Homo sapiens: one gene and its partners. The protein of the gene in region 3 interacts with the protein of the main gene of each other region in a biochemical or structural test. Each region holds a gene or a part of one and is shown on either strand. Other genes may lie near its edges.

Region 1 (7,573 bases), on a different chromosome or scaffold from region 3:
TACAGCCCAGAGAACATAAATGAGATATGATGCATGCATATTAATAGAAATGATTTATATTAAAAGTTTAGGCTTCTGGAATGTGGTTATGGATTATAGCATATACAGTTTTAAAGTTATATCAGACAATTACCATTCAACTTGTAAGACTTTTACATGTAAAAACAAAATGGGTTGCCTGAAAAATTTCCTTGCAGCTTAGAAAAGGGTGTTTACATTTTTCCTTAGGTTGTGTAATCAGAGTATCTTTTTTTGATGTTTTCTTTTTGAGATGGAGTCTGGCTCTGTCATCGCCCAGGCTGGAATGCAGTGGCGCGATCTCGGCTCACTGCAACCTCTGCCTCCTGGGTTCAAGCGATTCTCCAGCCTCAGCCTCCTGAGTAGCTGGAATTACAGGCGTGCACCACCACGCCTGGCTAATTTTTGTATATTTTTAGTAGAGACAGGGTTTCACCTTGTTGGCCAGGCTAGTCCTGAACTCCTGACCTCAGGTGATCCACCTGCCTCAGCCTCCCAAAGTGCTGGGATTACAGGCGTGAGCCACCGCTCCCAGCCCAGAGTATCTTTATTGAAGGGCACCCCTTGGGTTTTGGGGTTTGAGTTGTGTAATTGGGTCAGTCTTAGGGGACTGAAGCTGGGAGAAATTGTCTCATTTAGAAGGAATGTCTGGGGACTAAGCATTGTCATAGCAACTGACATACTGTAGTCAACAGTGTAAGAAGCTCATTTTCTATTGCTACTGACTTTGAAAAAGAAAAAAGATTACAATTCTTACACTGATGTGATGAGAAATATTTTTGGATTGTAAGACTTGTGTTTAAATTATTTCAAAAGAAATGTTTTTATCCTTATCTGTATGCTGCCACCCATAGGTAGGCAAATTATTCAGTATGTATGTACTCAAACACCAAGTAAGTCTCAAAATTATAAGACTTATCCCTGCCCTAAAAGAGTTTACTGGCTTTCTGGAGTTAAAACAGGAAACATTTAAGTACATATGAGGTGAGGAAGAGTGATACGGAAAAGTAGTTTTCATCTTCCAGTATTCATGCCCATACTTTTCCTCCTAGATAATAGAAATGAGGATTAACTCTAAACAATTATGGCTTAAGTGTGAAAATTGTGATTTGAGTAAGGACAACACATGTGTCTGTTATATTTGTCTCATATTCAATAGAAATAATACTAAACAAAAATCTTATACCAGAAATTCGAGTATCTATTGTGTAACTTTGGGTAAAGCAGCCAATTTGTGCACTTCAGGTTCCTCAGCTATATAGTAGGACAATGCTAAAGATTTCTCTACTGTTTAGTAAGGTAAAGGCCTGTCCTGAAGAAGAGGTTTAGACAGTAATGGTCACCTCTGAGGAAAGAACTTAAACCAGAGGTTGGGCATGACAGAACTGGTTTTAACATAAGGCAGATCATAATTCCCAGGATTGGTCATCAGTGGAAGGGGTGGCTTCGTTGAGGACCTGATCTCCATGTTAGTCAAAATTGTCAGACAGTTAGGGTGGTAATCTGCTAGAAAGAAGTGTCTGCACTAAGTAGGAGGAGGCTAGATACTGTTTTTAGCCTTCTTTTAAGTATGAAAAGTATTCTAGTTACCCATTGCTGTGTACCAAACCACCCTAAAACTTAATGGTTTAAAATAATGGCAGATATTTTGTTCATAACTCTTTAATTTGCATAAGGTTAAGCAGGGTTGACTCTGCTCAATGTGGCATCAACCGTGACAGCTTTCAAGATGGCTTGACCACATAGCTGGCTGGCAAGTTGATGCTGGCTTTGGGCTGGGAGCTCAGCTGGGGCCTCTCCATGTATTCCTGGCTTCCTTACAGTGTGATGGCAGGGTTCCAAGGGCAAGCATCCTAAGAGAGACTGGCAGAAGCTGCATGGTTTTTTTCTAACTAGCTTATTAAGTGAATTCTTAAGTCACTTAATTAGACTTAATTTGGATGTGGCAGGAGTAATGCTGAGGCAGTCACAAATGCCCACCCAGTTCCAAGAGGAGGTGACCTCTCAATGGGAGGAGTGTCAAAGAATTTGCCAGTAGGTTTTAAATCCTCTATATAAAGTTGTTTAAAGGATATAACTAGTTCTTTGTTTATTAATTTTAAAAATAGCTTTTTAGAGATATAATTCATATGCCATACAATTCACCCATTTAAAGTATATAATTCATTCTATCTAACTGTATATATATTTTTGAGATGGAGTCTCACTCTGTTGCCCAGGCTGGAATGCAGTGGTATGATCTCCGCTCACTGCTCCGCCTCCTGGATTCAAGCGATTCTCTCACCTCAGCCTCCCAAGTAGCTGGGATTATAGGCGCGTGCCACCACACCCAGCTAGTTTTTGTATTTTTTAGTAGAGATGAGGTTTCACCATGTTGGCCAGGCTGGTCTCGAAACTCCTGGCCGCAGGCAATCTGCCTGCCTCGACCTCTCAAAGTGCTGGGATTACAGGCATGAGCCACAGTGCCTAGCCGTCTAACTGTGTTTTTGTACTCATTAACCAACCACTCTTCATCCTCTCCTCCCCACTACCCACCACAGCCAACTATTGTTGATAATAATTTATTGTATATTTCAAAATAGCTAGAAGAGAAAATGTGGAATGTTCCCAACACAAAGACATGATAAGTGTTTGAGGTAATGGATATCCCAGTTACCCATATTTGATCATTACATTGTTGTATGCTTGTATGAAAATATCACATGTACCCCATAAATGCATACTACTATTATTATATATCCATAAAAATTTAAAATAAATTTAGTTTAAAAATAAAGTATATAATTCAGTATTTTTTAGTAAGTTCACAGGCTTATCACCATGGTCTAATTTTAGAACATTTTCATCCCTGGAAAAAGAAACCCTGTACCCATTAGTAGTCATTCCCCATTCTCGTCTCTCCGAGCCCCTGGAAACCACAAACTTATTTTCTGTCTCTATAAGTGTTCCTATTTTGGACATTTCACTTCATTGGAGCCACAATATTTAGCCTTTTGTGACTGGCATCTTTCACTTAGCATGTTTTTGAAGTTTGTCCATATCGTAACATGTATCAAGACTTTATTCTATTGTATGGATATACCACATTTTATTTATCTATTCATCAGCTGATGGACATTTGGGTTGTTTCTACTTTTTGTCTATTATGGATAATGGTGCTATGAACATTTGTATACAAGTTTTTGTCTGGACATGTTTTCATTTCTGTTGTGTACACATCTAGGTTTGGAATTGCTGGGTCATATGGTAACTCTATGTTTAACTTTTTTTTTTTTTTTTTTTTGAGACGTAGTCTCACTCTGTCGCCCAGGCTGGAGTGCAGTGGTGTGATCTCAGCTCACTGCAAGCTCCGCCTCCCGGGTTCACGCCATTCTCCTGTCTCGGCCTCCCCAGCAGCTGAGATTACAGGCGCCCGCCGCCACGCCCGGCTAATTTTTTGTATTTTTAGTAGAGACGGGGTTTCACCATGTTAGCCAGGATGGTCTCGATCTCCTGACTGCGTGATCTGCCCACCTTGGCCTCCCAAAGTGCTGGGATTACAGGCGTGAGCCACCGCGACTGGCCTATGTTTAACTTTTTGAGGAACTGCTAAACAGTTTTTTAGAGTGCCTGCACCATTTATATTTCCACCAGCAATGTGTGAGTGTTGTTTCTTCACCCATATAAAATTTTGATAAAGGTAAAAAGCATAGAGAGTGAAAAGTATATGGGGCTGGAATTTTAATTTGTATTCTGCACCTAACTACACCTCACTGGTAAACTAATTTAGCTTTTAGCCCTCAGTTTCCTAAGATCCCTTCCAGTTCTTGAATTCTTTGAGCAGCCCATGAGGGGAGGTAAGCATTGCTAGAAACATTCAGGCAAATCTGGATGAACAAAGGGAATGTGATAGGATGTAAAAATAGATTCAGATTAGATTAGATGATATGGGGAATCTTTTCAATCCTAAAATTTCATAATTCTATTTTGTTGTTATATATTTCACAAAATGGTAAGCTAATATAAATGTAGTACTTCAGTTTCTCGAATCATCAATAGTATATAAGCTCAAGATACTGGTCTTGAGCTTATACTATATAAGCTCAAGATACAGGGTAATTTTTGTATTTTTAATAGAGACAGGGTTTTGCCATATTGGCCAGGCTGGTCTCGAACTCCTGGTCTCATCTGATCCTCCCACCTCGGCCTCCCAAAGTGCTGGGATTAAAAGCAAGAGCCACTGCACCCAGCCTCAGAAATTTTTATAGAAGTTTTAAGAATGAAGCATCAAAAAAGAAAAGGTATCAGAAAGCTGAAATAGCAAGGTCGTGGTTAAGATCATTAGATACATAGGATATGAGTTGAATTTTTCATAGCCCCTTTTATTAAAACAATCATTTAAAAAATATATTTTTGACCCTGGTACTCTACAAAGCTTAGTACATTTTTTTTATTTAAAAAAATTTTTTTATTATACTTTAAGTTGTAGGGTACATATGCACAACGTGCAGGTTTGTTACATATGTATGCATGTGCCATGTTGGTGTGCTGTACCCATTAACTTGTCATTTACATTAGGTATATCTCCTAATGCTATCCCTCCCCCCTCCCCCAACCCCACGACAGGCCCCGGTGTGTGATGTTCCCCTTCCTGTGTCCAAGTGTTCTCATTGTTCAATTCCCACCTATGAGTGAGAACATGCAGTGTTTGGTTTTTTGTCCTTGCTATAGTTTGCTGAGAATTATGGTTTCCAGCTTCATCCATGTCCCTACAAAGGACATGAACTCATTCTTTTTTATGGCTGCATAGTATTCCATGGTGTTTATGTGCCACATTTTCTTAATCCAGTCTATCATTGATGGACATTTGGGTTGGTTCCAAGTCTTTCCTATTGTGAATAGTGCCGCAATAAACATACATGTGCATGTGTCTTTATAGCAGCATGATTTATAATCCTTTGGGTATATACCCAGTAATGGGATGGCTGGGTCAAATGGTATTTCTAGTTCTAGATCCTTGAGGAATCGCCACACCGTCTTCCACAATGGTTGAACTAGTTTACAGTCTCACCAACAGTGTAAAAGTGTTCCTATTTCTCCACCTCCTCTCCAGCACCTGTTGTTTCCTGACTTTTTAATGATCGCCATTCTAACTGGTGTGAGATGGTTATCTCACTGTGGTTTTGATTTGCATTTCTCTGATGGCCAGGGATGATGAATATTTTTTCATGTGTCTGTTGGCTTGCATAAATGTCTTCTTTTGAGAAGTGTCTGTTCATAAAAGCTTAGTACATTTTTTACTTGTATAAATTCCAAATAGGCTAAAAGCCTACTGACAGTATTGACAGTAGCAATGATGATGTAGGTGTCACTTGGGTTAAGTCACAGGAAAACTCAAACCATAGTGTCACAGAGGCTACCCTTTAGCTTTGCATGCCCAGAACACAATTTAATAGCAAAGATAGTGGATCTGTCTTCTGGGAGGTGTGTATATTGACTAAGATCATAAGTTTTATATTATTATTGAGAGAAACTATTTGTCCTGTTCATTTTCTTATTATGTTTCAAAGTCATTGAGATTAAGAATTTATATTTCAGCACTATTAGTTCTATAATTATGTGGCACTAATGTTTTCATTTGTGAAATAACCTCTCAGCTACATAGCTATCTAGCCCTGAAGCTGACTTAACAATGTTTAAACTTTAAGTATTTGTTTTAATTGAAGTGTAATTTATATACAGTAAAATTTACCCTTGTTAAGTGTACGGTTCTATGAGTTTTGACAAATAAATACAGTTGTGGAGCTATCACCAATCAAGATATAAAATGGTTCCATCGCCCCCAAAAGTTCTTCCTTTGTATAGTCAGTTTGCTCCTTTGTAGTCAGCCCCACTCCCAGCTCCTGATAAGTTTTCTATCCCTATAGTTTTGTCTTTTTGAGAATGTCATATACATGGAATCATACAATACGTAACCTTTTGAGTCTGGCTTCTTTCACTTAACCATAATGCATTTAAGATTTATCCATGTTGTTGCATGTATCAAGAGTTTTTTTTTTTGAGATGGGGTCTCACTGTGTCACCCAGGCTGGAATGCAGTGGCACAATCTTGGCGCACTGCAGCCTCAGCCTCCGGGGCTCAAGTGATCTCCCATCTCAGCCTCCCAAGTAGTGGAGACAACAGGCGAGTGCCACCATACTCAGCTAATTTTTTGTATCTTTTTGGTAGAGATGGGGTTTCAACACGTTGCCCAGGCTGGTCTTGCACTCCTGAGCTCAGGTGATCCGCCCACCTTGGCCTCCCAAAGTGCTGGAATTACAGGCATGAACCACCACACCCAGCCGGGAGTTCCTTTTTAATTGCTGAGTGGTATTCCGTTGTATGGATATATCACAGTTTGTTTATCCATTCATCAGTTAAAGGACATTTGGGTTGTTTCCAATTTTGGTAATTATGAATAAAGCTACCATAAATATTTGTGTACAGGTTTTTGAGTGAACATAAGTTTTCATTTCACTTGGGTAAATACTCATGAGTGGGATTGCTGATCATATGGAAATTGTTTATTAAACTTTACAAAAAACTGCCAGGTCAGTGGCTCACACCTGTAATCACAGCACTTTGGGAGGTGAAGGCAGAAGGATCGCTTGAGGCCAGGAGTTCAAGACCCGCTTGGGCAACATAGTGAGACCCCACCTCTACAAAATGGATAAACATAGCCAGGCAGAGTGGCATATGCCTGTAGTCCCAGCTACTTGGGAGGCTGAGACAGGAGGATTGCTTGAGCCCAGGAGTTTGAAGCTGCAGTGAGCTCTGATTGCACCACTGCACTCCAGTGTGGGCAACAGAGCAAGACCCTGTCTCTATAAAAAAAAAATTAATTAAAAATTTAAAAAAGAAACTGCCAAACTATTTTTCAAAGTGGCTATGCCATTTTGCCTACCAGCAGTATATGAGAGATACAGTTGCTCTGCATCCTCACATCACTTGCTTGGTATTGTCAGGTTAATTTGTTTTTAAGAGACAGGGTCTGCTCAGTCTCCCAGGTTGGAGTACAGTGGCATGATCATGGCTCACTGCAGCCTGGACTGCCTGGGCTCCAGCAATCTTCCCACTTCAGCCTCCCAAGTAGCTAGGACTACACTACATGTGTCTGCCACCACACTCGGCTAATATTTTTATTTTTTGTAGAGACAAGGTCTGGCTGTGTTGCTCAGGCTGGTCTGAAACTCCTGGCTTCAAGCGATCGTCCCACCTTGGCCTCCCAAAGTGCTGGCATTACAGCTGTGAGCTACTGCACCTCGCCTAGCTTTAAAAAAAAATGTTTAGCCATTCTAATAGGTGTGTAGTGATGTTTCATTGTAGTTTAACTTGCATTTCCCAAATGACTTGTATTTACCTAAATGTTGAGCATTTTTCATGTACTTATTTGCCATCCATATATCTTTGGTAAAATGTTTATTCAAATCATTTGCCCATTTTTTTATTGGGTTATTTGTTTTCTTATTATTGAGTTTTTCAGAGCTCTTTATATGTCCTGGATACAAGTCCCCTGTTATATATATGTTTTGCAAA
Region 2 (7,843 bases), on a different chromosome or scaffold from region 3:
CAAAGTGGCCTCGCTGTGAATGGGGGTTCCTTGTGTCCACTGGCAGAGTGCCTGACCATGGAGCCACGTGAGGGCCAGCTCTGCCACTCTGCAGCCCCCAGGAGGCACCAGTTTGCTTGCTGGTTTCTTTCCTCCTGGGCCCGACCATCCAGTTTCTTCACCCCCTATTCAGACCTCATCTTGTGCTGGCCACCAGAGTCTCAGATGACAGGGATCCTCAGAGCTCAGACCTCCCCCGTGCTTTCCTTGGGCCCCTCCCGGGCTTCTGTTACCCGCTGGGTGGGCTTGGTGACCCCTGCCCCTGGAGCTCTCCACCTTAAATCAGCCCACCCCAGTCAGAAATCCCTGTGCTACCCCCTCGGTGGCTCATTGCTGCTCACTGGGATCTTTCTCTCTCTAATTGAAAAATTAAAATCTGGTTCTCATCTTTCCCATGCATAACCTCTGTGAAAAATGTCAGATACCTTAGCCCCAGCAGGTTTCCTGCCTGCATTTCCTCTCCGGCCTCTCTCTCCCAGGCATGCAGATTCCATCCCTCTATTCACACACGCATCCAGAGCCTACCCTGTCCTAGCCCCTGGGGATAGAGCAGTGCTCAAAACAAAGTCCCCACCCTGTGGGGGCTTGAGTTCTAGTTGAGGAGACAGACAGACAAGAGACAAGATAAATCATGCATATAGTATGATAGGTGGCTGTGAGCACTATGGAGAAACATTGAGAAAAGAATACAGGGAACCCCTGGGGAGGCGATTCTGCAGTTTCATAGCAGGATCAGGGAAGCCCTCACTGTGAAGGCGACATTTGGGCAAAGTCCTGAAGAAGGTAAGGGAGGGAGCCATGCAGCTACAGGAAGAACAGCACTCCAGGCAGAAGGAACAGCAGGTGCGGAGGCCCTGGGATGCATGCGTGTTCCAGGAACAGCATGGGGCCAGGGTGGTGGAATGGGTGAGTGAGAGGGGGCGTGGCGGGAGGCAAGCTCAGAGGGTTGATATGCAGGCAGCGCGGGCCAATTATCCAGAGCCTTTCAGGTCATCTTAAAGCATTTGGCTTTTACTCTGATGAGATGGGGAGCCATTCCAAGGCTCCGTGCAGAAGAGTGACATGATCTGACCCAGTATTGGGGCTGCAAAGACACTTCAGAGGTCAAGGATGGAAGTAGAGACCAGTTAGGGAGAGAAAGAGATGGTGGAGGCTCAGACCCGGTGATGAGCAGTCGTCAGGGGTGAGAAGTGATTGGATTCTTACATGTTGGAGGTAGAGCCCATAGGATGTGGGTGTGATGGAGGAGGTGAGGTTGGTGACGGGGCTTGCTAACCGGAAGGATGGGGTTATGGGAGGGGCAGGCCTGGGGAGGAAGATGCAATGCAGGCAGCCTGTGCACAGCACTTAGAGCTTTCTCGCCAGCTGTGTGTCGGCGGGTACGTACCTCAGTGCCTTTGCACATGCTGGCCTCTGTGCCTAGGAGGTTTCTCCTGCCCCGTCAGAACTCCAACTGCCTTCTCAAGTGTCCCTTCTGTGAATCTGTCCCTTCACCCCTCATCCCCATCTGTTCCTCTCTCTGCTTTGTGCACATTCGGGACCTCGCACGCATCGCAAAGCCATTACCGTATTGTGCCCCAGAAGGTGCCCCAGAAGTTAGGACTGAGCGCCATCCATCCCTGAAGCCCTGTGTGTACGAGTTCCTAACAGCTCAGTGTCCCCCACACAGTAGGGGCTCAACCAGAGACTGCCTGGGGACCTGGGTGGACTCCTAGCTCTACTGTCTGTTCCCAGGTTCTGCCACGTTGGGTCGCTCGCCTTGCCTGCGTGGACCTCGATGCTTACCTCTGTCAAATGGGCGTGCTCTTTCCCTCCCTGCCTCGGGGTGTCATGGGAGCCCGCTCGCAAGGATCCCGAAAGCTGGGGTTAGCGCGCCCTCTGCTGGACGATGAAAGACTCCGCGCGCTCTGCTCCCCAGTCCCCCAGGTGGCCCGGGGGAGGTGAAGTAAGGCGGGAGGGCGGGGGGACTACAGGAGAGGAGGGGGAGCTGCTGCACCCGAACATTTCCAGCGCACCCTACACACATGTCCTTACTTAATCCCTAGCCCGACTCTGTGGAAGAGCTTAGGTGAGACCCATTTTCCAGAGTTCCTACCTGTTTCCTACTTGCTACTGAATTTCTTACTCGTAGTTACCTTATTTTTTTTTTTTTTTTTTAAGAGGAGAAGCGACTCAGAGAGAAAAGGGGCGAAGAAGGCTGGGCCGTGTAGAGGAAAGAAAAGGCGCGAGAGAAGAAGACTGCCCGGGTGACCGCGAGGCCTCTGAGGAATGGCTGAAGAGCAGATCCATCTACATGGGGCTGGGAGGGGAGGTGCGGTCACCGCTCAGCCGCCGACTCAGCCGAGGGAGACCTTGGCCAGCCCCTGCCACTCCGCAGGCTCGGTTTCCTCGCCTGTGAAATGCGGGCGATGACTCCCCTCCCCGCCGCGACTGCTCATCACCGGGTCCGAGCCCAGCCGCTGACCCCGGGGGAAGCGCCTTGCTCAGCGCCGGGCGGCCCACGAGGCCCTGCAGGACCGCGGCTGCGGAGACCGTTCCCGCCACCCGCCTGGGCTCCAGGGCCAGACGGGCTGAGGTCCCTCTGGGCCTCCGTCTCCTTTCCAGGGAGGGGCACCGGCTAGGTAACACGGCACTCGCCCTTTCCCTTCTCTGAGCCTGTAGTAGATGATGATAATAATGTTTCCGTGGAAGGTCCTGCTTTGTTAATAGTCACAGATTACAAAGTACTTGCCTTTTCCCACTCCCCTTATGTCCCTTCCCTGTACAAAACCTGGGAGGTGGCCTAATACCTATCCCCAATCTGCAGTTGACAAAACTCTAGCCCGGAGCAGAGCCACCTGCCTGAGCTCACCCTGAGAACCAGACCTGGACATGACCTGATAACTCAGCCCTTTCCTGCCCCTCAGCCATCGCTCAGCCAGGGCCCCTGAGCTCCCTCCAGGACCTCCTCTGCGAACTGTCAAGTGCACCTGGACTCTGAGGGCTGGCGATGGTGGGTGTGAGGAAGGAGAAACCCCTGTTGGAAAAAGGGCCTATGAGAAGGACGTCTAGTTAGAGGGGCAGCTGTGAGCACAGGTGTGGGGTTAGGGAACAAGGGCAGCCCTGCTGGCAGGAGGGGAGAAGGTGATGACCGCCAACAGGAAATCCCCAAGCCCAGCAAGTCAGGGAGCCCATTGAAAGCCTTTTATCCTGCATCGGCGATTTAACCCCATGTAAACGCCAAGTGAACATTCTCTTGTAGAGACCGATGGTCCTCATTTTCCTGTAATCCTGTAAAGGAATCTGATTTCTTCCATCAGCCTGTCCCTAGGACTAAAATGCCTCATTAGTGTTATTCTTAGGAAGGCATCTTCCTAGATCAGGCTGCAAGGAAATGGAGGAAGTGACTGTCAGTCACTCACACCCTGCAGGGGCACTAATTCCGAGAGCCTTAGGGGTGGGTGGGGAGCAGTTCATTGAAAGCCCAACTGGGTGGTGCATAGCGTGTGAATGTGAAGGGGATGGAGGAACCCAAGGAGGCCAGGCCTGGAGACAGCACCAAATCTGGGAGGTACATTATTATTCCCATTTTACAGAGGAGGAAACTGAGGTAACCTGATCATGACCACACTGCCCCACAGTAGAGGAGCCAGAATCCAAACCCAGGCAGCCTGCCTTGCCACCAGAGCCACGCTTTTCACCCTCAAGCTGCAGTTAAGAAGTATCACGCCGTGGCTAGGCCCACGGCCTCTGGCTTCACATCCCACTAGCTCTGCCATCTTTAGCTGTGTGACCTTGGGCAAGTTACTTGTCTGTGCCCGAGGGTCCTCTGTAAAGTGGGGATAGTAGTAGCTGCTTCACTGGGTTCCCTTCAATGAGTTAATAGCTGTAACATGTTTAGAATGGTGCCCTGCACATAGTCACCAGCCAGTACATATGGGCCATTATTCCTGAACCCTGGATAGGCACATGTCCTTGAAGAGTGTAGAATTCTTCAGGATTCTGAAATGCCAGCCTGTGGGATCCTGGAATCCTCCAATAGCATTCTAACAGCTCTCAGCTGCAGAACTGTACCCTGTTTTCTAGAGCTGGAAGGTGTGAGGCTGCCTGTCCACCCAGCTCAACCCCACAGTAGGCAAATGAGGTGATGTCAAAGCCTTGGCTGGGGCCCAGCCCCGGTAACCTCCCACTCTCCCTCCCCTGTGTGCTCCCTCGCTCAGATTCACACACACACTCCAGGCCAGCCGGGCCCAGAGGGAAGGTGAGAGGGCAAGGAGTAAAGGTGGCTGGGTGTGGGTCCGTTGAAGCGAGCCGCCTCCAGCCCTGTTGAACTGGTGGGCCCAGGGACTGGAGCGGGATTGAAAGGGATCTTGCTCTCCCTTGAAGCCTTGAGTTGCAGCGATTTCAGTGTCTTCTCTCCCTGTGTAAGCCTGTCTCGGTGTTTAGGCTGAACTACAGCCACCCCCTCTCCCGGGGGTGTGCAGGCCAGGGACTGGCCAGGCAGCCATGGCTGACGAGAAGACCTTCCGGATCGGCTTCATTGTGCTGGGGCTTTTCCTGCTGGCCCTCGGTACGTTCCTCATGAGCCATGATCGGCCCCAGGTCTACGGCACCTTCTATGCCATGGGCAGCGTCATGGTGATCGGGGGCATCATCTGGAGCATGTGCCAGTGCTACCCCAAGGTAGGTGGTAGTGGGGCTGGGTGGGGCCAGGTCAGCTGGGGCCAGGAGGGCTGGACACTGTGCCTGTATGCCATGCCTCACCCCCTATCCTTTAGTTGTCTTTTCATTCTTCTCATTTTGACTCGGTCTTCTCTCTGCTCTCCTGAGCGTCTGTCCCATCCATCCATCCATCCATCCATCCATCCATCCATCCATCCCTTAGCCTAAGGGTTGATCAGAAGGCCCCTGGATCTGGAGCCCTGAGCCGGAAGCTATGGTATAGACACAGCAAACACAACACACCATGTGCTTGAAACAAAAGCTAATGAGCGCTGACCCCCTGCCAGGCACTCCTGCGTTCAGGGTGCAGTTCAGCCCTCATCCTAAGCCTTTTGGTGCTTTCTGTAGTTCCACCTTCTGAGCCTTTCTGAGGTCCAGAAAGAGAGGCTGCACAGCTAACGAGCAAGGTTTGGAGCTCAGATGCGTGTGACTTACACGTCACCCTTCACCTTGGGTCTTCTACCTCTGGGTCCCAGAGCGACTGAGAGCTCCAGGGTAGGTCAGGTCTAACCTTGGTGGCATGCACTGGGCAGTATCCTTTAGAGTCTTCATGTATTCTCAGCCTTATGTGTAATTTAGTGATGGGAAGAGCACTGGTTTGGGAGTCCTGAGTTCTAGTTCAAGTCCTGTTCCAAACTCTCTATGACCTTTGTCTTTCTGAGCCTCATTTTTTTCATCTGCAAATGAGATCCCTGCCCCTATTTTCCACAGAGCTTCACAGGGTCATTATAAAGATCAGAGAAGAGATAAGATATAGGAATATTTTGTAAACTGTAAGGTGTTATTTATAGATGAAGGGCTACCACTGTTACCCATACTGATCCTCCCAACAGCTCTGTGGAATGGAAATGCCAGGAGTTGCGAATCTTCAATGCCTAGAGAGGCTGGGTGACTTCCAAGGTCACACAGCTGGTCAGGTACAGACCCAGGGAGAAAAGGAGGGAAATAGGGACTCTAACTTGGGCTCTGTCTCTTACTGCCTGGGAGACTTTGCTCAAGCCCCTTTCCTCTCTGAGCCTCAGTTTCCTCATTTGTACACTGTGTGAGTTAGGAGGGGGGGGTGGGAAAGGGGGTATATCTGGGGGCCCTGCTGGACCTAATATCTAGGGCTCCAGGTCCAGGCAGTCCTCAGCAACCCCCACACCTCCTCTCCTCCCACCTGGGTGGCTGTGCTCAGGGTTTCAGGGAAGAAGGGGGATGGCTCCCTGGGGCCTGGGCCGGCTCTCCCCAGCCCTGCCCCCTCCACGGGCCAACCCTGGGCTGTCATTCTGTTCAGTGCTGGAGCGGTCTGGGCTGGTTTGTAGTCATTTAGCAGGCAGTTTACAGTCAACTTGCCTCTGTCTGTGCAATTCCTTGAGCAGAGGTCACTGGGAGAAGTCCTTGGGGCCAAAGCCACTCATGTCACCACTGCTATTATAATCCTTCTCCCAGTGAGGAGGCTGGACCCTGGGGGACAGCAGAGGGATGGCAGAGGTGTGGAGAGGAGCATCCTTCCTGCCCCCGCTCTTAAATAGAGCTGGCTCTGGGATGGTTGGTAGGCTGATGGGAGTGACGGTAGAGGGGAGGGGAGGGGAGGAGGGAATATTGCTGGGTATTAATGAGTAACTGTTGATAGATTCATGGGTTCACGTGCTGTGGAGGCAGCGTGGTGGGCTGAAAATGGCACATGTTGTGGCAACCTCCAGGCCCAGATTCAAATCCCTGCTCCTTCATGTCCCACTTCTGTGACCTTGGCAGAAAGAGTCCCTCCCCCTCAGCTCTGAGCCTTGTACGGCTGATTGGGAGAACACAGTGGGATCGTGTGTGTGTGTGTGTGTGTGTGTGTGTGTGTGTGTGTGTGTGTTGGGGGAGACCTGGCATCACACCTGCCATGGAACATATGTGAAGGCATTGTTCTTAGGATTGAGGATTGGTATTTGCGGCACTGGGTGGGCCTCTGCATGAGTGCAGGTGTGTGTGAGTGTGTGTTTCAGAGATGCAGGCTGGTAGAGCCAGCACAAATTGACTCCAATAAGGGAAGGGAGGAAAGCACCTTATAAACCAGGGAGACACTCTAGAGGCGAAGCTCCCTGGATCCTGCTTGGTCTCATTGGTGCCTGGGCCAACGCTGCCTGCAGTGCTCCTGCCTGTCCTCCCCTCAGCCTCCTCCCCGTGGCTCTCTGTGCCAGACCTATGGAAAGTTTTGATAAATGGGGAGATATAAATATAAGGGAATAGAATTAGCTAATTAGGATATAGGGGTGAGGGGTAGCCAATACCAACATGCATTAAGCTGTCCATGTCTTTTAGGGGCTAGAGGTCTAGTGGGAGAGGCTATTTGCTGCCTGATGGGGAGGAAACAGGCTTCACAGAGAAGGTGAGCTGGGCTTTGTAGGTGAGATAAGAGTTCACCAAGCAGAGAAGATGGGGAAAGACATTCCAGGCAGAAGAGTAGCATGATCAAAGCAATGTGGTAAAAGAATAAGGCAAGTGGGCCATTGTGGCTACGAGAGGCAGAGGGGAGGAAGGTAAAGGTAGCGAGGGAGTGGGGCTCAACTCTTCAGGGCCTGGGATGCCATGGTAAGGAATTTGGAGCTTGTCCTTTAGTTAATGGGACACGACCAGCTTTGCAGTTTGAGAAAGACATCCAGAAGAAGGAAGGTCTGGGGGCAGCCATACCAGTGGGGAGGCTTCTTCTCTGGTCTTGGTGAGAGCTGACAGTCATCTGGAATAATGCAGAATTCAAACACAAAGCTGTAGGAACTAAGGTGACATTTACAGTTCACTTCACATAGAGTACCCGTTGTGGCTAGGCATAGCACCAGCACTTCCACCCAGGTTATCTTATTGAATTTCTGAAGTAGACCTGGTCAGATTTGGTGGTCAGCTGGGCCTCAGGCATGAGAGAGGAGAAGGGATCAGGGCAAATCTAGTGGATGGGACAGTTGGAGGTGCTGAGCCCATTAGTGAAGATGGGGCAGGGGAGCTGTGAGCAGGGAAAGGAGTGGCAGGGAGAGCAGGGTCTCTGCCCACGCATCCCCCATTCCTCACTCCTGCCTGCTGTGCTGGAGACCAGGACCAGGGTCCTGACTGGTGGCCTCCCTCTCTCTGGAGATTGCTCAGT
Region 3 (7,573 bases):
AGTGTTATGTATATACATATATATATATAAAAACACACACACACATACATATATATACATATATATATACAGATACATATACATACATATATATATATATATACACACACACACACACACACACAGAAGCTGAATACAAGTCTGTGAAATTCTAAAGCCCATAACATTCATTTCATTAGGACTCTGGTGAAGTGGGAACCCACTCTTCCTGAGGAGATGCTCAGACTTTGTTCCTTAGGAAACATTGTTTGTATTTATTTAGGAGAGGGTGATGAGAAAGAAGACACAGTTTGGATTAAGTTCTCAATTTTGAGCTTTAAGCTGATAGGAGTTCAGTTGAAAGACGTAAAAACAAATGGAAGTCAGTTATATTTAAGCTAGTTATGGGGACCGTATGTACTTGACTGTTGGCTTCGTAATTTCAGAATTCAAATTTTAGCTGGTCCTCACAACCACATATATTTTCCATATACCAACGCATTCCTTCTCCCTCCACCACTCTGGTTTCTTTGAATGACCTAGTTTGTATTGTTTTAGGTCAGGGCACCATGCCTCTGCCAGTAGTTTAAGCTGATTTCGAGGCAGATAAAACGTCTGTAGTCCATAGCACATCTATTCATGATTTGACTGTAGAAAAGTTTGTTTAAATGTTTTGTGGTTGAGTCAGACCACTTCTGCCCACCAGGGTGTAGATAACTTGTATACACACATGCTGGTAACACACAATATACTTTTAACTGAAGTTCATGTTTCTTAAATTGTTTTATTTAATGTCACAGGAATATAAATCCTACATAGAGATCATGCCCGTTTTGCTCACTGTTGTACTTGGGGCACATTAAGGGTGTTTAATGATAATTGCGTGAATGGATATTTTGGCCAAAAAATGCACTTTAAAAATTAATGTCATTGTATTTATACTGCAAAACTCAGCCCTATGATAAATTTAACTTCTAATCGCTGTCTCCCTTCATTTGACAGTTAAAATAAAATATGGGCATATATGTATAGATGCACAGAATAGACTTATTCTGGTCTCTTTCATCCAGCCTCTTAAATCAGCTTACTTTGTACCTTTCAGGCAGAACCCTGATCTCTATAAATATCCTCTTCCCTATTTAGCAAACCCTGATAATCCTGTGATCCCATCCTCAGTAGTTGGATTAATATGATGCTGTATTATATTTGCACTTGTCTTCCCTAGACCATGCTTGAAATGCCATTTATCATTTTGCTGGAAGAAAACATTAGCTGAACTTTGCATTTCTCTGTAATTTCACTCAAAGGTGAAGTATCTGAAGTTATTATTTCCTAATAAGGAAAATTACTCATTAGAAATGTAGAAGCACTGTATTCTACACCATTAGGTTAATAAAGTTTATCTATAGTTAGAATTTTTTTTTTTTTTGAAACAGTCTAGCTCTGTGGCCCAGGCTGGAGTACACTGGTGTGATCTCGGCTCACTGCAACCTCCACCTCGCAGGTTCAAGCGATTCTCCTGCCTCAGCCTCCCAAGTAGCTGGGAATATAGGTGCCCACCACCATGCCTGGCCAATTTTTTGTATTTTTAGTAGAGGCAGGGTTTCACCATGTTGGCCAGGTTGGTCTCAAACTCCTGGCCTCAAATGATCCGCCAGCCTCAGCCTCCCGAAGTGCTGGGATTACAGGCATGAGCCACTGCACTCAGCCTTATAGTTAGAATGATTTCTTTTTCTTTCTTATCTGTGCTTTGCTCCTCTCCTTTTAAGGTGAATAAACATTATGTTTGTCTCTTTTTTTTTTTTTTTTTTTTTGAGACAGAGTCTTGCTCTGTCACCTAGCCCATAATGCAGTGGCCCGACCATAGTTCACTGCAGCCTCAAACTCTTGGGCTCAAGCCATCCTTCTGTCTCAGCCTCCTGAGTAGCTGGAACCGCAGGTGCACACCACCACACCTGGATAATTTTTTTTTTTTTTTTTTGGTAGGGATATGTGTCTCGTGTTTGTTGCCCAGGCTGATCTTGAATTCCTGGCCTTGAGCTATCCTCCTGCCTCAGCCTCCCAAAGCACTGGTATTACAGGTGTGAACCACTGTGCCTGGCCTTGTTTTTCTCTTAATTCTTTAATATCAAATGTAATGAGTGTGGAGCAAGTCTCTGCCTGAAAAAAAAAACAGTATTTTTAGTAACTTCTTTAAAAGAGACACATGAGGAAAAACCCAAAACATTAATTTTAAACTTTGAAAATATTTTATAGGCCGGGTGCAGTGGCTCACTCTTGTAATCCCAGCACTTTGGGAGGCCGTCACGGGCAGATTGCCTAAGGCCAGGAGTTTGAGACTAGCTTGGGCAACATAGTGAAACCCTGTCTCTACTAAAAATACACAAAATTAGCTGGGTGCGGTTGTACACATCTATAGTCCCAGCTACTCCGGAGGCTGAGGTGGAAGGATCACCTGAGCCTGGGAGGCTGAAGCTGTAGTGAACCATGATTTCACCACTGTACTCCAGCCTGGCATTAGGAGTGAGACCTTGTCTCAAAAAAAAAAAAAATATATATATATATATATATATAATATATGGTTTTATTTTTTGTTTTTGTTTTGAGATGGAGTTTCACTTTTGTTGTCCAGGCTGGAGTGCAGAGGCATGATCTTGGCTCACTGCAACCTCTACCTCCTGGGTTTAAGCAATTCTCCTGCCTCAGCTTCCCAAGTAGCTGGGATTACAGGCATGTGCCACCATACCCGGCTAATTTTGTATTTTTAGTAGATACGGGATTTCGCCATGTTGGCCAGGCTGGTCTCGAACTCCTGACCTCAAGTGATCCACCCACCTCGGCCTCCCAAAGTGCTGGAATTACAGGTGTGAGCCACCACACCCGGCCAAAAAAAATTTTTTTTAAAATAGGAAACAGATCTTCCTTCATAATTTCTGCACTAAGCAGAAAATGCATGAGAAGAACTTTGCCTGTGTCATTTAATGTACTAATTTGATAAATTCCAGATGTTTTATAATTTATTTTAAGAGGTAATGAGACCTCTTCTTTTCACTTACAATCAGGAACTCAGGATGAGTAGTAAAATGGGTTTTCCTCTTAGCCTTTTTATGTCACCAGTCCCCTAAGGATCTCAGAATTTTAATTTTTACTTTTCTGAAAGGTGATATTATAAATGAGTGATTGCAATATAGCTAATAGAAACCAGGGAGACTTCTTGTAAATATAGTTTTAAGAAGGAATGCTGTCAAAGTATTCAAGACCAGATGAGATAAAAACAGCAAAAAAAAAAATCTTGCCTTTGGGTGGATCGCTTGAGCTTAGGAGTTCAAGACCAGCCTGGGCAACATGGCAAAACCCCATCTCTACAAAAAATACAAAACTTAGTGGGGCGTGGTGGTGTGAGCCGGTAGTCCCAGCTACTGGAGAGGCTGAGGTGGGAGGATCGCTTGAGCCCAGGGAGTCGAAGCTGCAGTTAGCCGTGTTCACGCCACTACATTCCAGCCTAGGCCACAGAGGAAGACCCTGTCCCCCCAAAAAAAAGAAAAAGGAAAAAAAAGTCTGGCCTTTTAAAAAGCCAGACTTCTGTTTGTTTCCAATCTATTCAATCTCTGTCCCCCAAATCTTTTGGCATAGAATTTGTCTAGCTTAGACTAAACCTTCCATCTTACTGCTGGAAAAAATTGAGGCATAGAAAGGTTAATGTGGTCCTTAGCAAGTCAGTACAGATACAGTACTAGAAGTGGTAAACAAAGAGTCTCTGAGGCAGAAAGGAATTCTTAATAATTATGCATATTTGCGTATGATTGTCCAAAGATGCAGTTGTTGAGAATTATTTCTCAGAAGTATCCTTTGATCTTAGTGAACAAACTGGTTTGAATTATTGCCTGGTACAATGTGAATAACAAATACAACCATTTTGCATAATTCTAAGACTCAGTTTGAAGGAATTTCTTCTTGGGCTGGGAGATTAAATTATATGCCCTTTAAACTCTGGGATTCTTTGACTCTTGTTCTAGCCATGTGTCGTTAGAACAAGATTATCAGCTATAGCACAGAACAAATAACTTTCCTATAAAGATGTTCTTATGTTCTTAACTAAAAATCAACATGGTTTATTTATTTTTTCTTTGTTTTCTTTTTCTTTTTTCTTTTTTTTTCTTTTTGAGACAGAGTCTCACTCTGTCACCCAGGCTGGAGTGCAGTGGTACAAATACAGCTTACTGCAATCTCGACCTCCCAGGCTCTAGCAATTCTCTCACCTCAGCTTCCTGAGTAGCTGGGACCACAGGCCTGCGCCACCATGCCTGGCTTATTTGTTTTTTATTTTTTGTAGGGACAGGGTCTCACTATGTTGCCAGGGCTGGTCTTGAACTCCTGGGCTCAAGCAGCCCTCCTGCCTTGGCCTCCCAAAGTGCTGGGATTATAGGCGTGAGCCACCATGCCCAGCAACATGCTTTATATTTCTATCCATAAAAAATAATAAATAATGGCCAGGAGAGGTGGCTCATGGCCTGTAATCCCAGCACTTTGGGAGGCCAAGGTGGGCTGATCGCTGGAGGCCAGGAGTTCAAGACCAGCCTGGCTAACATGGCGAAACCCCATCTCTACTAAAAATATAAAAATTAGCTAGGCATGGTGGCACATGCCTGTAATACCAGCTACTCTGGAGGCTGAGGCACAAGAATTGCTTGAACCCAGGAGACAGAGGTTGTAGTTGAGCCGAGATTGCACCACTGCACTCCAGCCTGGGTGACAGAGGGAAATATTAGATTAACAGTAAAAAATTCCTTGGTTAATTTTGGTGGGTTTTTGTTTTGTTTTGTTTTGTTTTGCTTCATGGATGCCTTTTATGATTTCTTAACTTCTCTGTTGTACCAAATTTTTCATCTAAAAAACACAGATTATCTATACCATGCACCTATCCTGTAGGGTCTTGTGAAAGATGATAGTAGAACATTTTGAATGAAGAAGTCTTGAAGATGTGCTGAAATAGATAAAATCTTTTTTTTTGAGACGGAGTCTTGCTCTGTCACCCAGGCTGGAGTGCAGTGTGCAATATCGGCTCACTGCAACCTCCGCCTCCCAGGTTCAAGCGATTCTCCTGCCTCAGCATTTCGAGTAGGTGGGACTACAAAGCGCCTGCCACCACGCCCGACTAATTTTTTATATTTTTTGTAGAGACAGGGTTTCACCGTGTTAGCCAGGATGGTCTCGATCTCCTGACCTCGTGATCCGCCCACCTTGGCCTCCCAAAGTGCTGGGATTACAGATGTGAGCCACCGTGCCCGGCGATAAAATCTTTTTTAAAAATTTTTTCCTTTTAATTTTTGTGGGTCCATGGTGTTATATATTTATAGGGTACATGAGATGTTTTGATACAGGCATGCAATGTGAAATGATGAAATAGATAAAATCATTAACAGGAAGCCCAACTATAATTTTATATAGCCTTTTTATATATTTTTGTATAACACCTTAAAATCGTGTGTTAACTTGGGTGTGTCATCCTATTTAATTCCACAAGTGTTATCTAGTGTCTGTTTGATAAGTGCCAGGCATTATGGGACAAGTATAGCCCTTACCACGAGAAACTTTAGTAAAGGAGAAAAATACAAACATCAGTTACCTAGTTTGATATGATGAATGTTCTGCTCTAAGTGTATGTAAAGGGCTTTAGGAACACAGATGGGGTAGAGTTCACACTCCCAGGAGATTTGGGGTGACTGCTAAGCTAGATTGATTGGAGGAGCAGAAATAAGCCCTGCTACTTATTAAGTTGCTGAATTTACTGTAGCACTTCTACCGAAACTTGGAAAGAGGAAGCAAATGGAATAAGTGGCATTAGAATGAAAAATAATAACATAAGCTCTCCATAACCAATAACTTTTTTCAAGGAGAAGTTATTCTCATATCCAGTTAATATCACAGTCAGTGCCCCCAGAGTAATCTGTCTCCTTTGTGGTTGTTGAAGGGCTTGCTCTCAATTTTGCGCAAGTTGAAAAGTGCACCAGACCAGGAGGTGAGAATACTTCTCCTGGGCTTGGATAATGCTGGCAAGACCACTCTTCTGAAGCAGCTTGCATCTGAAGACATCAGCCACATCACACCTACACAGGTGAGCACTGCCTTGGCTCCAGATGCCGTGTGACACAGGAAGACGATAATAGCAATGTGAAAGACAAAATGGGAAATACAGTTTTGTCCACTTCCAAGTTTTGTCTCTGAGAAAAGTCTATACAATCTAAAGATAACCAGATTTCAAAAATATGTAAGAGATTCCATTCTCATGAGGTATTTAGAGTAGTCAGATTCATAGAGACAGAATGCAGAATGGTGGTTACTGGAGCTGGGGAGGGGGAATGGGGAGTTATTGTTTAACGGGTACAGTGAGTCAGTTTTGCAAGATGGAAAGAGTTCTGTGGGTAACGGCCCACAGTGTGAATGTATTTAATGCCATGGAACTGTACACTTTAAAATGGCTGAAATGGTACGTTTTATGTTATAACGTTAAAATGTGTACGCAGACACACTTCACAGTACCCACTTCATCAGGCCACCCCACTGCAGCATCTGCATCCCACTGGGCTTCAGCCTCCACACAGCACCTTTCAGCACATGCACCCCTCTTCCGTCTCTGCCCCACCTTCCCCACCCGCACATGTCCTCAGCAGCTGCATATTGTACGTGTTATGTTACAATTTAAAATATATGTATACATATATACACATGTGTGTGTTTGTGTGTATATAGACAAATCCAGCAGATCTGAGTACCTATATTCTTTTTATTTTTATTTTATTTCTTTAAATTATTTATTTTTTGAGACACAGTCTTGCTTTGTCACACAGGCTGAAGTGTGGTAGTGCAATCTTGGCTCACTGCAACCTCCGCCTCCCAGGTTCAAGCGATTCTTGGACCTCAGCCTCCCTAGTAGCTGGGATTACAGGCGCACACCGCCATGGCCCGCTAATTTTTGTATTTTTTTGTAGAGCCAGGGTTTTGCCATGTTGGCCAGGCTGGTCTCAAACTCCAGACCTCAATGATCCACCCACCCCAGCCTCCCAAAGTGCTGGGATTACAGGTGTGAGCCACCACACCCAGCCTATTCTTTTTTAAAAAATAGCTTTATCTTCTCTGATTATGAAAGTAGTGCATGTAGAAAACACAGAGAAAGTATAAAGGAGAAAACTCTGAGAAAAACCATGGTTAATATTTTACCGTGTACTTTTCAGACTTAATAAATACAAATATGTATCAATTTTTAAAAGAAAAAAAAATTACCTGCCTTTTTTTTTTTTTTTTTTTTTTTGGAGACAGAGTCTCGTTCTGTTTCCCAGGCTGGAATGCAGCAGTGCAATCTCAGCTCACTGCAACCTGCGCCTCCTGGGTTCAAGTGATTCTCCTGCCTCAGCCTCCCAAGTAGCTGGGACTACAGGTGCACGCCACCACGCCTGGCTAATTTGTTGTATTTTAGTAGAGACAGGGTTTCACCGTTGTTGCCCAGGCTGGTCTCGAACTCCTGAGCTCAGGCAGTCCACCTGCCTCGGCCTCCCAAAGTGCTAGGATTACAGGCGTGAACCACCTTGCCCGGCCA
Region 4 (7,085 bases), on a different chromosome or scaffold from region 3:
GGTTGTGGGATGGGTGCCACACAGACATAGGGCCATCAGGGAACAGTGGCATTTCTCAAGTGGACAGGGAGATTCTGCATGGCCAGGTGCCAAACTCCTCATGAACGAGGGAGCGAGTCCATGAGGTCCAAGGACGACAGCAGCAAGGAGCTGCCAATGGTGGTGGAAGCTGACAGTGGGCATGCCCTTTGAAGGAAGGAGGGGCTGTGCCCACGTGTAAGAATGATGGCCCGGCAGCGGCAGCTTGTGGAAAACCAGCCCATCCCTAGGAAGGCCTGCGGTGGCAGAATTCCCTTGAGAACAGCTAAGGAAGTGACGGTCCAGAGGCTGCACTGTCCTGGGCTGTGTCCAGGTGATGTGGAGCTCGCTGTAGTTCTTACTCAGTGCATAAATGCCCCGTGGTTGGGTTTACATACCGGTCCCAGGAACCAGGCCCCAGCAACAAGCTGTGGTTCCTCCTCTCACCTTTTTAGGACCTGCGTTGTCCCCTCCCTCCTGCATCCTCAGTCTCTCCCCATCACCGGCCACTTCCTGCTGCCTGCTCTGGCTACCACCTTGTTTCTTTCCTGCCTTGCACTGGCAAACTTCCCAAACAAAAGGTTTGTCATTCCTGCCTCTATTTCCCCACCACCTTCTCACCTATAGTCTCTCTCTCTTCTGCCCTCTCCTCTCGACTGAACAGCTCTCTTGAAGGCCACCAGGGCTCCCTGCACTGCCAAGAACTGGTGCCATTTCCCTTTTATTCTCCTGGGTGTCTCAGCAGCCATGGCTGGATTACCATTCCTGCACCCTGCGAACACAATTAGCCTGTTTTCACACTGCTTTGCTTGACTCTTCTCTCTCCATTCCCTTTTTGATGCTTCATTCTCTTTCTTATATCTTTAATAAAATCCCTTCTTGGGGCTATGCTGTTCTCTCTACCCAAAGCACAGTGTATTGATGAGATGCATGGAGGCCAATGCCAAACTGCCTAGACCCAAATTCTGGCTCTGCCACATACCAGCCAAATGACCCTGGGAAATTAGTTCTCATTTCCATGACTCGGTTTCCTCATATCGGGAGTGGTATAATAATACCTACCTCCTAGGGTTTTTGAAACTCTAGACAGTGGCTGCTATATGGTAATTATGAAGCCTCTCTCCTTCCGAGCTCTCCCGTGTACCCCTCTAGCTCCAGCTAAGGCACATTTTAAGTCTTTATCAGACCATCCCATGAAATTAATTTCATTTGGAGTGAATTCATGTTCTCATTGCTGACTTTGTTGACTGTCTTTCTGTACATCATATTTGTCATGTGATTTTAAATGTTGGTTTCAGGCTCACCTAGAGTAGCGGGTTTGCTTTTGTTCTGTTTTCTCTCCCTCTCTATCTGCTACCCTCCCTGGGTAGTAGTTTTGTGGTGGCCCTCATGCAGTTTCCTAGTCAGAACCGAATCTCCTAGTGACATTTTTGGAGTTCTTCCTCTGCAAATATTTTGGGGGATATTCTAGACCCAGTCACCAGCCATGCGGCTGAATCTTTTTGTTCCCTCTTACTTATTATACCAATGTCTTCTTATAAACCAAATAATTTTTATAAGTTAGAATAAAGGTTATCAAACCCAGCAGTTATCAGCTGAAGTCCTGTTTCTTCATGCAGAGCCCAGAATATGAGTAGCACAAATGTATTTCAGATACTTTGTGTGTATTACACCAATGGCTTCCTATAAACCAGGGTTTCTCAATCTCATCACTGCTGACATTTGGGGCTGGGTAATTCTTTGTCATGGAGAGGGCTGTCCTGTGTATTGCAGGGTATTTAGCAGTGTCCCTGGCCTCTATCCACTGGATGTTAGTAGCACTCCCCCCTCCAGCTGACACAACCAAAAATGTCTTCAACCATTGCCACGTGATCCTTGGGCAACCCCTGCTCCACCAGCAGAGATCTAGTATCATAAAGCCATGCCCCCACACAGGGGTCAGCATTCCCTTTTACAGCTTCTGTGTCTTAAAGGTGTGGAGGAGCCCAGCCAGCCTGTGGTCTCAGTCCTACTCACTGCTTTGTGTTTTTCTTCTAATTTTGGGCAATAGAGATGTTTGCCTTTTGGGGAGTGTAGGGGGAAACCCTAGTTATATCTTTTTATTGTTCCTTTGTTTCATTTGGTCCCTCATGGCTATGAAATCGGAGCAGAGGGTATAAATTCATGCACAGATATTCTGCTTCATCTGGATCAAAATGCCCTCTCCTTTTCATCCTTCAGGAGTGATGTCCTCCTTCCCATCATGATAGTCTTTCTAGCTTTGGAATATTTATAGCACTTACTGTCAATAATAGTCACTTTGCATATTCTGCTTTCAGCCACTTGGAAGGGTTGTCAAAGTCTAGGATTGGTATTTTACTTTAACTGGCTTATCTTTTGTGGCTACAATTTGATGTTGGCTTCTCTGAGGTTTCTTTGCATATTCAGTAGTGGCTAAGAGGGCAGGTGGAACATAGTAGGTATTTGGGAAACATTGAGCCATGAATCTCTTGTTGGTTGGTACAAAGACCTCTGAGGCTCAGGTTCAAAAGTTCTAGCTACCGTCTTGCAGCTTTGAATCATTGAAGTAGGTTTTCTGTAGTACAAAGGCTATTTGACTATGCAACTCACAAAATCAGAGATGTTACACTTGGTCATTCTTCGAGGTAAGGGAGCCCTGGGTGCTGATTGCCTGGGGACAGTTGCGGTTTACTCCTGTCTTCCAGATGAAATTGATAATGTCTTGTTTCACTCCCCAAAGTGCCTTGGTTTAGCTGATAAAATATGCGGTAACCCCACTTTGAGGCCACTAAGTATACTCTCCTTTATAAGTGTGGACATTGAACAAATTATATTTTCCCTTTACTTACAATGTTTCCCCACATTCCCCTGGGGAAAAGAAGCTAGTGAAATGTTTTATTGCAACTCTGTGCTTATTCATGGATTTGGATGAACTGGCATTTACTGAATAGCAATGACTGCTGTACACTTTGCAGGTAGGTGCTCACTACATGTGAACCAAACGTACATCATCTGAAATGCCTTTGCGCTACTCGTATTCTGTGCTCTGCATGAAGCATCTGGACTTTGGCTGATCACTACTGTGTTTGACGATGCTTATGCTAACTTATTAAAATTACCTGGGCAAGCCTATCTTTCACCTACAGTGTGATCTGCACCCCAGAGCCAACATCCACACACATCTGATCACTGGGACTGACCTGCTGTGTCTGTCAGCCAGAAGCAAGGCTTAAGTGATTTCATTTGTGGAACTGATCAGTTCAATGCGGACTACACATACACTAAATCTTCGCCTCTTGATGGCAACACACCCTGAGTCCCCATGACTTCCACAGGCTGCCCTTCCACCTAGTTAATTTCCAGGGAGGAAACTGCCAGGCTGGAGGTCACAGTTTGTCCCCTGCCTCCAGGCAGCCCTGCACTTAAACAAGTGTATTCTAAACAAACAAAAAACAAATTTCCAGCCCTCCGAGAGAGTTGATTTGAACATTCCAGGCTCCTGTGGCTCCCCATAGGCACTGCCAACCTAAAACCAAAATGATCCATTTTGTCTGAAATGAAGAAGGAGGACCCTTCGAGGGGAAGCTGCTGTTCGGCTTTGGTGGAGAAAATGGCTGAGGACGGGTTGACTTCTCAGCTGCTTCTTTCGGGCCTCCACGTGCTGCCTCCTGCCCGATGCAATACCATCATGTTTCCTTCTCTGCTTTCTTCCGGGAGATGGAAAACAGTTCCCCACCTTTCCCCTGGTGTCCCCCACTCAGGACCTGGTGTTCCTGCCCAGTACCACGGTGGGCGGGGCGCTCCCCCAATCCTGCAGGCCTGTCATGGCCCACCCAGACAACTGGAACAGGGTGGGAGCTGCTGGTGCTCAGAGGGCTCCCCTGCAAGCCCCCAGGCTGTGTTTAACAGTCTTGACAAGTGTACCCTTGGGCAGAGGGCCAGGAACAATCCGTGTAACCCCATTAAGCTAATTATCCTCTCTGCAGATGGCCTCCCGCACTAATCCTCTTGGGTTTGCCATAATCCAGCTCCCTCTGGGGAGAGTGGCCAGGGTGGCAGGTCTCTGTGCAAATGGACCATCTGTTGGAGCTCAGGAGGCTGGGCTCCTGCCCAAGGGACTGGGGCCTCAGGCTCTCAGGCCAAGGAGAGTGGCCCCGAGGACTGTCCGGAGGAGGGTGGCCAGCCCTGCTGCCCAGAGGGACTGAGCCACTGGCAGGGAAGGAGGCGGTGTTCCCCCTGGCCTGACTTTCCTCCAAAGGACGTCCCCCTGAGGCTTAGGGGCTGAGCCATGCCCTTGTGCTCCCTGGAGGACGGTGAGTCAGCAGCTGCCTATGTCCCGCAGGGTCAGCCAGCCACCTGAGGGGCAGAGAGTCTTGGCTCTGGGAAGTCACAGCAAGTGGGGAGGCGTTTCAGCCTGAGAGCCTGGGAGGGATGTCTTGAACAGGATGCTTGCGGTGACGCAGGATCGGTTCTCTTCTGCAAGGCCTGCTGGGCTGTTTGGGAGCAGATCATGTTTAAACACGACACAGTGGAGTTTCAGGTTTCTGCTCGTTGATTTACAGGATGTTAGTATCACAGCCTGTCTGTTTCTCCCACCTGGACCTGGAGGGTGAGCAATGCAGTCGCTGGAGTCAGAGAGGGAGAAATCCCTCCTGAGGATTTCTTGGGGCTCTTGGAGAGGAGGGAGAGGTGGGCAGCTGCCCCTTGATTCCTGCAGGGTGAGGTCAGCTGGGGTGGGAGCAGATTCTGGGGAGGTGTCCAATTTGCTTCTTAGAGGACCGAGACTTCAAGAATCTCTGAAGACCCAGGGCAAATAGAGAGAGTGGTAAGGAAGGGGCATAGAAGGTCCCTATCAATGAGGTCATTGAATTTTCTCTACCCAGCTTCAAGGCTGGCATCCTGGGCCCATTTGTGCAGAAGAGACTGAGGCCCGGACAGATGAAGTCATGGAAGGGCCACAAAATCAAACTGGGGTCTGCTCTCTTTATGGTAATGACATCCCCCCAGCGGCCAGTCAAGTGCCAGTCTCCCGTCCCAGTTTTCTGGTGGAGAAAACGAGGCTTAGGGGAGATCAGTGGTTCCAACGGCAAGTGAGCAGAGATCCATGGCCCAGACCTCAGACGAGGTCCAGCGCGGCTGCAGCTAACTGTCCCTGTGCCTCAGATCTGTACTTCCCCATGGGACCATGCCCCACAGCCAGCTCATCCCCCTGCCCCAGGCTCCCTCCCCAGCTGCTGCACAGTGAAGGGAAAAGGAGCAAAGACACTGCCTCAGGGTGGAAGCTTGGAGGAGGTCGCGGGAGGGCACCAGGACTCCTTCCCTGGGGGAGGTGCACAGCCCAGAAATGCATCTCAGACAGTGAGAACACACCTTCAAGATGTGCACTCCACATCGTTCTTTATTTACCCTCTCGGTTATATAAACATCTTCCAGAAATCCTCTTACAAATTATAGTGACCTCAGACAGGCCTGCTGCTCTCTTCTAACAGGAGGGGACGAGGAGAGCTGGTTGCCGTTTTCTGAACCTCTGTGTTTAATGTGTGTGTGTGTGTGTATGCGTGTGTGGGTGTGCACATGAGTGTGTATGTTTGTACAGGTGCGTGTGCGCACATGTGATGTGGGTGTGGGTGTGTGCACATGAGTGTGCATGTGTATACAGGTGGGTGTGCATGTGACGTGTGTGTGCATGTGATGCATGTGTTAGTTTACGAGTGCACGTGTGTGTGTGTGTATGTGTGTGTGTGTGTGTGTTGGAGGGAGACACCTGGTGTTTTGGAGGGATCCCTGGACCTGCAGTCACGAAGTGTAGACTGTGGCTGGCAACATAGTTCTCTGCTCCTCTGCTCCTGGGTTTTGGTCTCTTAGGTGGAAATCAAGGGGTCTGGACTAAACAAGCCTTCGGTTCTTTCCAGCTCGATGGCCTGTGCATGCAGTGTTCAACAGCTTTCTCAGCTCCAAGTTAAATAACCCGTCCCTGTAACCTTTCCCTGTAAAACGCATTTTCCAATCCTTTAATCATCTTGGTTACTTTCCTGTGAACTCCCTCCAAGAGACCTGTGTCATTGAATAAGTATGTCATATAAATTAGTCAGTAAATCAATCTGTCAACAATATCTCTTGAGCAACCACTCTGTGGCTTGCTGGAGGTGCTGGGCTGATACAACCCAGCCACACAGGGACAGAAAGAGTTTTCACCCTGCCTCAGACCCGGAGTTGATTTGTCTAACAGTGGCCTGAGGCACTGGGCACCCACTGGGATGTCATCGATCCCCAAAGACCGAGCCTTCCTCCAACATTAATGTCTGAAAATACTTTAGGTAACATTAGCTAGGCACCTGCTCTGTTCAGAGCTCCACTAGGCACTGTGATAGTTACAAAAGTGAGCATGATGACCTCCAGGAAGGGCAGGTACGCACAGAGGACGGGAGGAGATAGGGAATCAGGGGGGACGTGGGCTCAGAGTGGAGAGCCGGCCAGCCTCAGGCTGCAGATGGAATCTTGGTGTTCAGATGTGGGCTACTTTGAAAGGTTTTTTTTTTTCTTCAATACAGAAGGATCAATTGTAAAATGAAGTAGCCAAAAGCATTGAATTTGGAGGAAACAAGACTTTCGTTCAAAGAGTGATTTCACCACTCACTAGCTACGTGAACCTTGGGCGAGTCATTGAAGCTTTCCAAGCCCCAGATTCTTTAAGATACTGCGGGGCTGGTTATACCCAGCAGGAAGGAATATTAGAGTTAGATGACATCGCATTCGTCAAGTGTCTGGTGCATAGCAGGAGATCTACATGTATAATCTGCTTTCTCTCCACCACTCATGATGGATCAGTTTCTGAGGAGGCCCCCAACCCTTCTGGATGGATATCTATATTGTCAGCCTTACTGTTAGCTGGGGCCCTAAGTTCTATGAGTCCACTCTGTGACGTGTATCATATTACAGTCCCTGCTTCTTGATCCTAAAATCATTTCCTTCAACCCTGAAGGGCAGTCTTTTATTTATAGTGGAGTCATGCGTGGCTTCATGATGGGAATGCATTTTGAGAAGTGTGTTGTTAGACAGCTGTGTCA

Evidence for each region.
Region 1: the proteins of ARL3 (region 3) and RP2 form a complex in vitro, tested with the Homo sapiens proteins (2 studies listed by BioGRID).
Region 2: the proteins of ARL3 (region 3) and BSND interact in a biophysical measurement, tested with the Homo sapiens proteins (one study listed by IntAct).
Region 4: the proteins of ARL3 (region 3) and RP1L1 interact in a biophysical measurement, tested with the Homo sapiens proteins (one study listed by IntAct).

What each region holds. Positions count from the first base shown.
Region 1 is NC_000023.11:46,839,725-46,847,297, forward strand, and holds part of RP2 (protein XRP2), read left to right. Parts: intron 1-7,573. UniProt on the Homo sapiens protein: Acts as a GTPase-activating protein (GAP) involved in trafficking between the Golgi and the ciliary membrane.
Region 2 is NC_000001.11:54,994,663-55,002,505, forward strand, and holds the start of BSND (barttin), read left to right. Parts: upstream 1-4,270; 5' UTR 4,271-4,524; coding exon 4,525-4,701; intron 4,702-7,843.
Region 3 is NC_000010.11:102,703,867-102,711,439, reverse strand, and holds part of ARL3 (ADP-ribosylation factor-like protein 3), read left to right. Parts: intron 1-5,950; coding exon 5,951-6,094; intron 6,095-7,573. UniProt on the Homo sapiens protein: Small GTP-binding protein which cycles between an inactive GDP-bound and an active GTP-bound form, and the rate of cycling is regulated by guanine nucleotide exchange factors (GEF) and GTPase-activating proteins (GAP).
Region 4 is NC_000008.11:10,652,144-10,659,228, reverse strand, and holds the start of RP1L1 (retinitis pigmentosa 1-like 1 protein), read left to right. Parts: upstream 1-4,085; 5' UTR 4,086-4,331; intron 4,332-7,085. UniProt on the Homo sapiens protein: Required for the differentiation of photoreceptor cells. Plays a role in the organization of outer segment of rod and cone photoreceptors.